Linked DNA regions of Homo sapiens. The protein of the gene in region 1 interacts with the protein of each later gene in a biochemical or structural test. Each region holds a gene or a part of one and is shown in the gene's direction. Other genes may lie near its edges. The genes, in order: USP28, ESPL1 and RFFL.

Evidence for each region.
Region 2: of the proteins of USP28 (region 1) and ESPL1, one has a biochemical effect on the other in vitro, tested with the Homo sapiens proteins (one large-scale study listed by BioGRID).
Region 3: of the proteins of USP28 (region 1) and RFFL, one has a biochemical effect on the other in vitro, tested with the Homo sapiens proteins (one large-scale study listed by BioGRID).

Annotation. Positions count from the first base shown.
Region 1 is NC_000011.10:113,868,938-113,872,586, reverse strand, and holds part of USP28 (ubiquitin carboxyl-terminal hydrolase 28), read left to right. Parts: intron 1-3,649. UniProt on the Homo sapiens protein: Deubiquitinase involved in DNA damage response checkpoint and MYC proto-oncogene stability. Involved in DNA damage induced apoptosis by specifically deubiquitinating proteins of the DNA damage pathway such as CLSPN.
Region 2 is NC_000012.12:53,266,767-53,270,515, forward strand, and holds the start of ESPL1 (separin), read left to right. Parts: upstream 1-1,532; 5' UTR 1,533-1,611; exon of another isoform or gene 1,612-1,863; intron 1,864-1,988; 5' UTR 1,989-2,000; coding exon 2,001-2,081; exon of another isoform or gene 2,082-2,162; intron 2,163-2,257; coding exon 2,258-3,319; intron 3,320-3,611; coding exon 3,612-3,716; intron 3,717-3,749. UniProt on the Homo sapiens protein: Caspase-like protease, which plays a central role in the chromosome segregation by cleaving the SCC1/RAD21 subunit of the cohesin complex at the onset of anaphase. During most of the cell cycle, it is inactivated by different mechanisms.
Region 3 is NC_000017.11:35,018,696-35,022,344, reverse strand, and holds part of RFFL (E3 ubiquitin-protein ligase rififylin), read left to right. Parts: intron 1-563; coding exon 564-974; intron 975-3,649.

The DNA of each region.
Region 1 (3,649 bases):
CTCATTAACTGATTTTTAAAACATCAGTAAGTCAGTGATTGGTTCCACAACTCTCATGCCCCTCTGCCCCCAAATGCAAACAGTATTTTTTTTTTTTTTTGAGACGGAGTCTCGCTCTGTTGCCCAGGCTGAAGTGCAGTGGCGCGATCTCTGCTCACTGCAAGCTCCGCCCCCCGGGTTCATGCCATTCTCCAGCCTCAGCCTCCTGAGTAGCTGGGACTACAGGTGCCCACCACCACGCCCGGCTGATGTTTCTGTATTTTTAGTAGAGACGGGGTTTCACAGTGTTCGCCAGGATGGTCTCGATCTCCTGACCTCATGATCCGCCCGCCTCGGTCTGCAAACAGTATTTTTAAGACTTACTGGCAAATAGCATCTTACCAGGCGAGATCTCTCCATGTGTTCTGTTTCATCAAAGAAATTAAATCAATAGTAAAATGAAGCAAGTACTTAACAAGGAAAATAATGCTGGTAATAGTAATAGCTAATGCTAATTGAGCATGCACTATGTGCCAGACTCGGTGCTCAGAACTTAACATAGCATTCTCTCAGTACTTACACAACTCCATGAAGTTTCTATGAGAAGGCTTATACTTGTTAAGTAATTCGTCCAAGGTCACCCAGTGAGGATATGGTACAGTTGGAATTGTATCTAGGCAGTTCTGACCCCAAGAGCCCAAGGCGCCCCTGGTCCTATCTCATAGTTGATGGGCCCATTGCCCTGGATCACAGACTTTCCACTACTCTTATAATGCCTTTTCTAGAACTCTCCTAATGTTTTAAACTTCCAGTCCTCCCTACAGTCTTTCTAAATAGATAATCTTCTTTTCTACTTGACTGAGCTCGCTGATGTCTAAAAAGAGCTCCCTGCCTTCTGTTTTGTCCCCCTCTCCCTACGCCATCTCATCTCTTTTCTCTTATTTCAGTGGAAAAGGTTCCCTTCCTTTTTCCCCCTTTCATTTCTTAGAGATAAACCTAGATTAATGGTTTTTACTAGGGAGAGATTTTGTAATCTAGGAAGCATTTGGCAATGTCTGGAGACTTTGATTGTGACTCTGGAGGGAGGATGCTACTGGAATGTAGTGCGTAGAAGCCGGGAATGCTGCTAAACATCCTGCAGTGTACAGGAGTAAGCCCCTCTAAACAGAGTTATGTGTAAATTGTATAAAATAGTGCTGAGCTTGACAAACTCTGATCTAGATGATGTCTCTCTTCTCTTTCTATTATGTCCCTTCTCCTTAGTCCTAGTCTAACCCCCAGACACCTTCACTGTCTTCTCCCTTGCTACTCACATTATGGTCCACAGACCAGCAGCATTCACATCCCCTAGGATTTAGACATGCAGAAAGTTGAGTGTGCTAGAGCCAGCTTGCTCTGCCTCTCCAGCTGATTTTGTACATCTCTTTCCAGCTCTGTGTTCAATGACCTCGTGTTGATAACTGTGCCAAGGTGGGAATATTTATACCAAGGAAACAAGCATACACTGCCAATCAGCATACCACTGCCTGTACCCCCACTCTAGACCTATTCAATCAGTTTCTGCCTTTTGACAAGATTCTTGGGTGATTCATTTGCATATTACATTTTGAATTTGCATTTTCCATTTTACCGTGCACTTGTCCTCTATCTTGAAACCAAATAACAACAACAAAAGTGTCTATTGCCCAGTCCAGCTGTTGTCTCCACCTTCCTCCTCTTGTTTGCTTTTGGAACAAAGTTTCTAACCCCACCTGTTTCATTTCTAAAACATTTTTCCAGTGACAATGTATTCAGACTCAATATACAAAACTTGGAAAAGACAGACTTGAGCAAGACTAACTCTTAGCTGACAGGAGATTGAGGAAGGTTGGTTCCCAGATTCTGCTACAGAGCTTAAGGTGGCAATAACAGCTTCTGCAAAAGCCAAATAATGAGATGGCCGTGTGGACCAGTCTGGGCTCCAGCAAATGGCTGATTGTTCAGAGGCCTGCAGAGGGACTGACTAGGCAGCAGCAGGTTAGGTTGAAAGGCAGTGAGTGGTTTTATGTAATCAGAATCTGCTCAGCAGCCTACTTTGCCAAGGCAGGATCTCTCCCTCTGTCACCCAGACTGGGGTGCAGCGATGTGATTATAGCTCACTTTGGCCTTGACCTCCTAGGCTCAAGCGATCCTCCCACCTCAGCCTCCTGAGTAGCTGGGACCACAGGCGTGCATCACCGCACTTGGCTGTTTTTTTAATTTTTTATAGAGACGAGGTCTTGCTATGTTGCCCAGGCTGGTCTTGAACTCCTGGGCTCAAGCAGTCCTCCTGCCTTGGCCTCCCAAAGTGTTGGGATTACAGGCATGAGCCACCACACCTGGCCCCCTCATACTTTTATTATTTTATGCTTTTATGATCCCTCATTACCACTTTTTTGCTGTTACTTTTTTCTTGTTTTGTTTTTTGAGACGGAGTTTCGCTCTTGTTGCCCAGGGTGGAGTGCATTGGCACGATCTTGGCTCACTGCATCCTCCGCCTCCTGGGTTCAAGTGATTCTCCTGCCTCAGCCTCCCGAGTGGCTGGGATTACAGGCATGCACCACCATGCCCAGCTAATTTTGTATTTTTAGTAGAGACAGGGTTTCTCCATGTTTGTCAGGTTGGTCTTGAACTCCTGACCCCAGGTGATCTGCCCACCTCAGCCTCCCAAAGTGCTGGGATTACAGGCGTGAACACCTGGCTCCAAATCTACATTTCTAATCCTGAGTTGCAAATGACTTCTATACTCTGTTTCCCAGTGCTTTTTGAACAGGTCTGCTTGAATATCAACCTCCTTGGCTATAAACGTTTGCTTCATACTTATTTTCCCAGGGTTGTTATACTAGGCATGGGAATGTACACTTGTATTACTCGTGTCTGCCATATGCTATGTACCACCCTAAGCACTTTTCCATACATTTTTATTTACAAAAACCCAGCAAGGTGTGAACTATTACCCTATTACTGATGAGGAAACTGAGATGTCTTGTTTGTTTTTTGAGATAGGGTTTCACTCTGTCACCCAAGCTGGAGTGTGGTGACACCGTCAAGGCTCACTGCAGCCTTGACCACCCAGACCCAAGCAATCCTCAGACACTTGAGTAGCTGGGACCACAGGTATGCACCACCACACCTGGCTACTTTTGTTTTATTTTATTTTTTGAGACGGACCGCAGTCTGTTGCCCAGGATGGAGTACAGTGGCGTGAGATCAGCTCACTGTAACCCCCGCCTTCCGGGTTCTATTGATTCTTCTGCCTCTGCCTCCCAAGTAGCTGGGATTACAGGCACATGCCACCACGCCTAATTTTTGTATTTTTAGTAGAGACGGGGTTTCACCATGTTGGCCAGGCTGGTCTTGAACACCTGACCTCCGGTGATCCGTCTGCCTTGGCCTCCCAAAGTGCTGGGATTATAGGCGTGAGCCACCGAACCCAGCCTGTGGTTAATTTTAAAAGTTTTTTTAGCAATGGGGTCTCTCTGTGTTGCCCAGGCTGGTCTCAAACTTATGAACCAAGTCATCCTGCCTCAGCCTCCAAAAGTGCTGGGATTACAGGCATGAGCCACCGTGCCTGACCTCAGATGTTAGTATGCCTTATAAGGGCCTCATATGAGATTTATTTTATTTATTCCTTTTCTTTCTTTTGTCTTTT
Region 2 (3,749 bases), on another chromosome or scaffold:
TTGAGACAGAGTCGTCTCGCTCTGTAGCCCAGGCTGGAGTGCAGTGGCGCGATCTTGGCTCACTGCAAGCTCCGCTTCCCGGGTTCACGCCGTTCTCCTAGCGCAGCCTCCCGAGTAGCTGGGACTACAGGAGCCTGCAACCACGCCCGGCTAATTTTTTGTATTTTTAGTAGAGACGGGGTTTCACCATGTTGGCCAGGATTGTCTCGATCTCCTGACCTCGTGATCCGCCCGCCTCGGTCTCTCAAAGTGCTGGGATTACAGGCGTGAGCCACCGCGCCCGGCCTTTTTTTTGGTTTTCTTTTTTGAGACAGAGTCTTGCTCTGTCACCCAGACTGCAGTACAGTGGCGGGATCTCAGCTCACTGCAACCTCCGCTTCCCGGGTTCAAGCGATCCTCCCAAGTAGCTGGGACTACAGGCCCCCGATGCCACAGCAGCTAATTTTTGTATTTTTAGTAGAGATGGGGTTTCACCATGTTGGTCAGGCTGGTTCTCAAGTGATCCACCCACCTCGGCCTCCTAAAGTGCTGGGATTATAGGCGTGAGCCACCGCGCCCGGCCTTCTTTTCTTTCTTTTTACAAAAATAATCTTCCCTGCTAGATTCTCAACTCATAAAAGAGCTCTATGATGATGGAGAAGGATGAGTTATCCAGTAGAGTTCATCAGCGACAAGCTGATAACCACTTTTGAGCTGAATTCTTTGGTGGAGGAAGGAAAGAGACAGCTGAATCTGTGTTTGGGGAAGTGGTTAGTACTTAAAAACATAAGCCATTAAAGACTGTGAAATATCCCAGGGAATGAATTTCCATAGTTCTTCCTGCTACTCACAACTCCCACCCCACCCCACTACCCTCTCTCCCCCATCGAAGAGCACCAGATCTTGTCTTTCTCATACAACCAATAGAAGGAGTAAGGCTGGAAGGCAGAGAGAGAGCTGGAGGTCGCTACGGGTACTCATTGTAGTTCCCCTAGAAAACCATCTTTAAAATAATTTCGTAGGAAGTTGGGCGTGGCGGTGCACGCCCGTAGTCAGCACTTTGGGAGGCTGAGGTGGGAGGATCACTTAAGCCCGGGAGTTTGAAGCTGCAGTGAGCTGTGATCACGCCACTGCACTCCAGCCTGTGTGTCAGAGCAAGACCCTATCAAAAAAAAAATTCGTAGAAGTCTAAGCCCTTTTTTTCTAGTAACCCAAACCGCGTGAGTTCCTAAGTTCTTTTTGTTATTTCTCTTCTCTTGAAACTTAAACTCTTGCCTGAGCTCTGAAGATAAAGGAGGAAAAGGGGTGGCATTACCGATAGCGACTAAGCGACAGGTAGCTGAGAAACTGAGCTCTGACTGGAAAAAAGGGGGAAACCCGCACCCCCAAGAGGCCCTAACGCGCAGAGCAGCAAGACCCTCCGGGGCGCCGCGGGAGCGCGCAGCGCGGCGGGTAAACTACAACTCCCAGCGTGCCGCGCGCCCGGCGTTGCGCCGCGCCCGCTGATTGGCAGCCGCGGATATTTGAAAGGAGGGTCTGGCGCGGAAAACGAAGGTTACATTTTGGATCCTCGCGGAGTACTGGTCAGGCGGTTAAGTCCTGTACCTAGGAAAGAGGGCGAGCTCTGGGGCGGTAAGGCCGGAAGGGACTCGTGAGCGTGGGTACGTGCTGAAGTGAAGGGGATCCCCAGCGCTGACGCGAGGAGAGGCGTGGGTGGCTCCTGGAGGGAGTGTCGGGAGGCCTTGGGACTGCCCCGGGCCGCTGAAGGGCTGGGCCGAGGCCTCTGGGGTAGCGCGGCGAGTGGTGTGGTAGTGCGGTCGGGGATCTGCCCGGAGGAAGGAAGAGCGGAATCGTCCTTTTATAACGGGAGCACGGCGTCCTGGCGTGGGTTTTCTCCCCGATGAAATTTCTGATGTGATTCTTTGCCTCCTTCCACGACCTTCAGCCCTCTTCCCTTCCTCCAGTTAGCTTCATTAACAATCTTCTCTAATTGGTCTCCTTTTCCCTAGCTCTCCGGTGTCATGAGGAGCTTCAAAAGAGTCAACTTTGGGACTCTGCTAAGCAGCCAGAAGGAGGCTGAAGAGTTGCTGCCCGCCTTGAAGGTGGGGGTGCTGCCTGGCTCGGGATACACCTGGCTTTCCAAACTGAGCTGTTTTGTGTTTGCCTTTTGAAGAGATGGATAAGTAGGCGACCCTCTCTGAGTAACCCTATTTCTAGTTACTTTCTCTACCTCTTTCCTGCCTTTGCTAGCCCCATTCATATCTTTCTCTACTCCTAGGAGTTCCTGTCCAACCCTCCAGCTGGTTTTCCCAGCAGCCGATCTGATGCTGAGAGGAGACAAGCTTGTGATGCCATCCTGAGGGCTTGCAACCAGCAGCTGACTGCTAAGCTAGCTTGCCCTAGGCATCTGGGGAGCCTGCTGGAGCTGGCAGAGCTGGCCTGTGATGGCTACTTAGTGTCTACCCCACAGCGTCCTCCCCTCTACCTGGAACGAATTCTCTTTGTCTTACTGCGGAATGCTGCTGCACAAGGAAGCCCAGAGGCCACACTCCGCCTTGCTCAGCCCCTCCATGCCTGCTTGGTGCAGTGCTCTCGCGAGGCTGCTCCCCAGGACTATGAGGCCGTGGCTCGGGGCAGCTTTTCTCTGCTTTGGAAGGGGGCAGAAGCCCTGTTGGAACGGCGAGCTGCATTTGCAGCTCGGCTGAAGGCCTTGAGCTTCCTAGTACTCTTGGAGGATGAAAGTACCCCTTGTGAGGTTCCTCACTTTGCTTCTCCAACAGCCTGTCGAGCGGTAGCTGCCCATCAGCTATTTGATGCCAGTGGCCATGGTCTAAATGAAGCAGATGCTGATTTCCTAGATGACCTGCTCTCCAGGCACGTGATCAGAGCCTTGGTGGGTGAGAGAGGGAGCTCTTCTGGGCTTCTTTCTCCCCAGAGGGCCCTCTGCCTCTTGGAGCTCACCTTGGAACACTGCCGTCGCTTTTGCTGGAGCCGCCACCATGACAAAGCCATCAGCGCAGTGGAGAAGGCTCACAGTTACCTAAGGAACACCAATCTAGCCCCTAGCCTTCAGCTATGTCAGCTGGGGGTTAAGCTGCTGCAGGTTGGGGAGGAAGGACCTCAGGCAGTGGCCAAGCTTCTGATCAAGGCATCAGCTGTCCTGAGCAAGAGTATGGAGGCACCATCACCCCCACTTCGGGCATTGTATGAGAGCTGCCAGTTCTTCCTTTCAGGCCTGGAACGAGGCACCAAGAGGCGCTATAGACTTGATGCCATTCTGAGCCTCTTTGCTTTTCTTGGAGGGTACTGCTCTCTTCTGCAGCAGCTGCGGGATGATGGTGTGAGTTAAGGACCTGGAGGTAGGGTGGGGACGTGGTCTGTGGACTCACTACCAGCCTAGGGTATTTGGCAAGATCTGGAGGTCCTGGCTCCCTCCTTGTTAAGCTGCTCTCTGGACAGTGCCTAGCGAGCCAGCAAACAGCCTAGTCTATCCTGAGAGGGCAGTGGCCCTTCTGGATGTCCTTCCTCGTGCTCCCTGGGCTCTGTCAGCTCTCCAGGACTCCGGGTCAGTCTTCAGCTTGGAGCCCTCTTTATCTCTACTCCTCATACCAACCTTCCGCTTCCTTCCTCAGGTGTATGGGGGCTCCTCCAAGCAACAGCAGTCTTTTCTTCAGATGTACTTTCAGGGACTTCACCTCTACACTGTGGTGGTTTATGACTTTGCCCAAGGCTGTCAGGTACTGTCTGGGAATCAAGGTACCTGGACTAGG
Region 3 (3,649 bases), on another chromosome or scaffold:
CTGGCTGTCACCGTTAGGTAATATTTCCTAGCTATAATAAAACAGCTTACACTTGTTGAGGACTCATTTTGTGTTAGATATGCTAAATGGGTTCTCTCTTAATCTTCACAACAACCCCATGAGGTAGATACTGTTATCACCCCCATTTTACAGATGTGGAAACTGAGCACCAGAGAGGCTAAATTACACACCCAAGGTGATACTGCAAGAAATAAGGGAGGGAGGCTTAATAAAAATGCAGAGCTTTTTGATTCTTATGCTGGTAGTCTTAATTAATACCTCAGGTGCTTCAGGAGTAAATAAAGTAAGCCTCAAATTAAATAATAAATGTGAAGTGTCCTGTACATGGATATACACAATACATAGTGGAGGTCTTCCACCCGAGTGGCTTTTAATCTAAAATCTGAAAGTGGCTTGCACCCTTAGATATATGAGAGAGCTTAGTAAAAGTAAGAGTGACTGGAGGAGATCCTGCTGGGCTTGGCAGCTCTGAAGCTCCCATCGCACTCTCTGTCTTGTTCTCTCAATCTGACATGGTTTCCTGTGTCTTTTGCTCTAAGCAGCAGACCTGCTTGGACTGTAAGAAAAATTTTTGCATGACCTGTTCGAGCCAAGTAGGGAATGGGCCCCGCCTCTGCCTTCTCTGCCAACGGTTTCGAGCTACAGCCTTTCAGCGAGAGGAGCTCATGAAGATGAAGGTGAAGGACTTGAGGGACTATCTCAGCCTCCATGACATCTCTACCGAAATGTGCCGGGAGAAAGAAGAGCTGGTGCTCTTGGTCCTTGGCCAGCAGCCTGTAATCTCCCAGGAGGACAGGACTCGTGCCTCCACCTTGTCCCCAGACTTTCCTGAGCAGCAGGCCTTCCTGACCCAGCCTCACTCCAGCATGGTTCCACCTACCTCACCCAACCTCCCCTCTTCATCTGCACAAGCCACCTCTGTTCCCCCAGCCCAGGTTCAGGAGAATCAGCAGGTAAGGGCCCATTTGTAGTCTCTGCCAGTCTGTGCCAGTTTGAGGGCTCATTTTCATTTTCCTCTCCTGCCTTTGTTGTGAGAATGGGGTATAAGGCTAAGTGTCTTGATTATGTGAAGCCTTTCTGACTACTGGTGCACCAAGTGTTTTCTGGGTATCAGACTCATGTTTTGGCTTTCTTCAGAGGTGATATGCACAGTACCAATTTTTTTGTTTGTTTTTTGTTTTTAATACACACATATCCTAGTTAGACATTTTTTAAAGTTCATCATTCCAGAAATATTTTGAGAAAAGTAACCATTAAGCCATCAAATTTAGTTCTGTTCCAATTTGTCTTTCAACTTAACTCCTTTGTTGCAGTCTTCATTGGCTGGATTGGAAACTTAGTTCCTTAGTAACCATCACAAGGAATATAGGAAAGCAAAGGGCTATATGGAGGCAAGGGAGGGTGGGGAAACAGACAAAGACACTGCTTCTCTTACCAGTCACTGGCTGGAAGCAGGAGTAGTTGGCACGCTGTACTTGCATGCTGCTTCTTCATTATCCTGGGGGGCTTGGAAGTGGTAAGCTAAGAGCAGCACATCAACTGAATCATGACCCAGGTCTGGGGAGTATAGAAATGAGTAATAAACTGTCTCTGTCCTCAAAAAGCCCCCAGAAGAGGGAAGGTAGACAGGTAGACCAACTAACTACTGGATTAGAGTGAGGCCAGTGGACATAATTGTTGTATAAGAAGTGATGATGTTGCATAAGTGCCTTAAGTGACTCTGTTATTTATAGCAGCGGCCCCTAACCTTTTTGGCACCAAGGACTCGTTTTGTGGAAGACAATTTTTCCACAGACTGGGGTGCGTTGGTTTTGGGATGAAACTATTCTACCCAGATCATCAGGCATTAGTTAGATTTTCATAAGGAGCATGCATCCTAGATCCCTCGCATGCGCAGTTCACAACAGAGTTCACATTCCTATGAGAATCTAATGCCACCGCTGATCTGACAGGAGGCAAAGCTCAGGCAGTAATGCTTACTTGCCAGCCACTCACCTCCTGCTGTGCATCCGGGTTCCCAACAAGCCATGGACCAGTACCAGTCTGTGGCCCAGGGGTTGGGGACCCTTGATCTATAGGGCTTGGGCAATATGGGGGAATTAGGAACTACAAGATCCAATTTCCACATCCACTTTTGTCACTGACTTCTTGATCCCCTTGGGCAAATGTTGAGCCTACAACAATGAAATGAGGTTAGTAATCACAGACCACTTTTGATCTTGCCAGGATGTTGAGAGACCTGAATGCGTGATACCATGTCTAAAAGAGCTCTGAGTTACTTAGAGCTGGTATAGTGCTAGTGCTGTTGGTTCCCACACATGATGTGGATGGCTGCTGCCACTTGTTTATGATCACCTCCTTTGCCAGGACTGGGCCCCCTGATTCAGCTCTTGACAACCACTGAGGCATAAAGGCCAATGTGATAGCATAATTTAACTGCAGTAAAATCATTTAACTCCCTTTTTGGCCTGAACATGTTTTTCTCCGCAGCTGGACTTTAATTCTTTCCTAAGCTCTGACTCTTGGTCTGCTAGACAGATTTAAACTCCTGCTATATATTCTTCCCTTTGCTTGTGTTTTTTTTTTTTCCACTCTATGTATAAGGAGCCAGGAGAAGAACTTGAGGAATTCTTTTTCTGTAAAGAACCTTGGCTGGGCGTGGTGGTTCATGCCTGGTAATCCCAGCACTTTGGGAGGCTGAGGCAGGCGGATCATTTGAGCCCAGGCATTTGAGACTAGCCTGGCAACATGGCAAAAACCTGTCTCTACAAAAAATACAAAAATTAGCTGGGCGTGGTGGTGGGTGCCTGTAGCTACTCAAGAGGCTGAGGTGGGAGGATCATTTAAGCCTGGGAGGTCGAGGCTGCAGTGAACCATGATCATGCCACCACACTCCAGCCTGGGCAACAGAGTGAGATCCTGTCTCAGAAAACAAAAACAAAAAACCAAGCAAACTTTTCAGGTAGATTTTTCAATGAAAGATGATAAGCTTCCTGTCATTAACCAGAAATTTCCAGATTGCACCTAAAGGTCACCCTACATACAAGATCTAAGTGGGTACTTTTCCTCTGAGATTTTCAAGAGACCTTAGTGTCTGCTTACATCCCCTGTTCTGGTGAGAGCTGCACTTTGCAAGCAGGAAAAACAGGCATGGAAGAATTAAGTAACTTACGCAGTACTGTCTGACAAGTTCATAAGTGAGCTGCACCTAGAATGTAAATTTCCTTATAATACTTGCTCAACCAGAGTTCTCTCTTTCACCTTTAGTGCCCTAGCAATCAATAGTTGCTAGGCAAGGAAGTATATACAATAAGCACAACTGTGGACAGGTACTAGTTTTGGATTTTTATTTAGCCAGTGGGCAAACTGGAAAGACAAGAGCATGCTTTGCAGCATGAGGTCGTTTCTCTTTCTAGGAAACAGGACATCTGAAAGATAGCTACTTAGGAACAGGTTAGGCTCTGAAGGATTCCAGGGTAATTCCAAGGTAACACTACCTGAGAGACCAGTGAGGATCTACAGTAAGCTAAGAGAAAACGTTGTTGATGAAGACATTGATTTGGATCCATCCCCATACATGTGTACTATGCATTTGATCTTGCCTTGATTTGGCATTTTGTTACTTCTG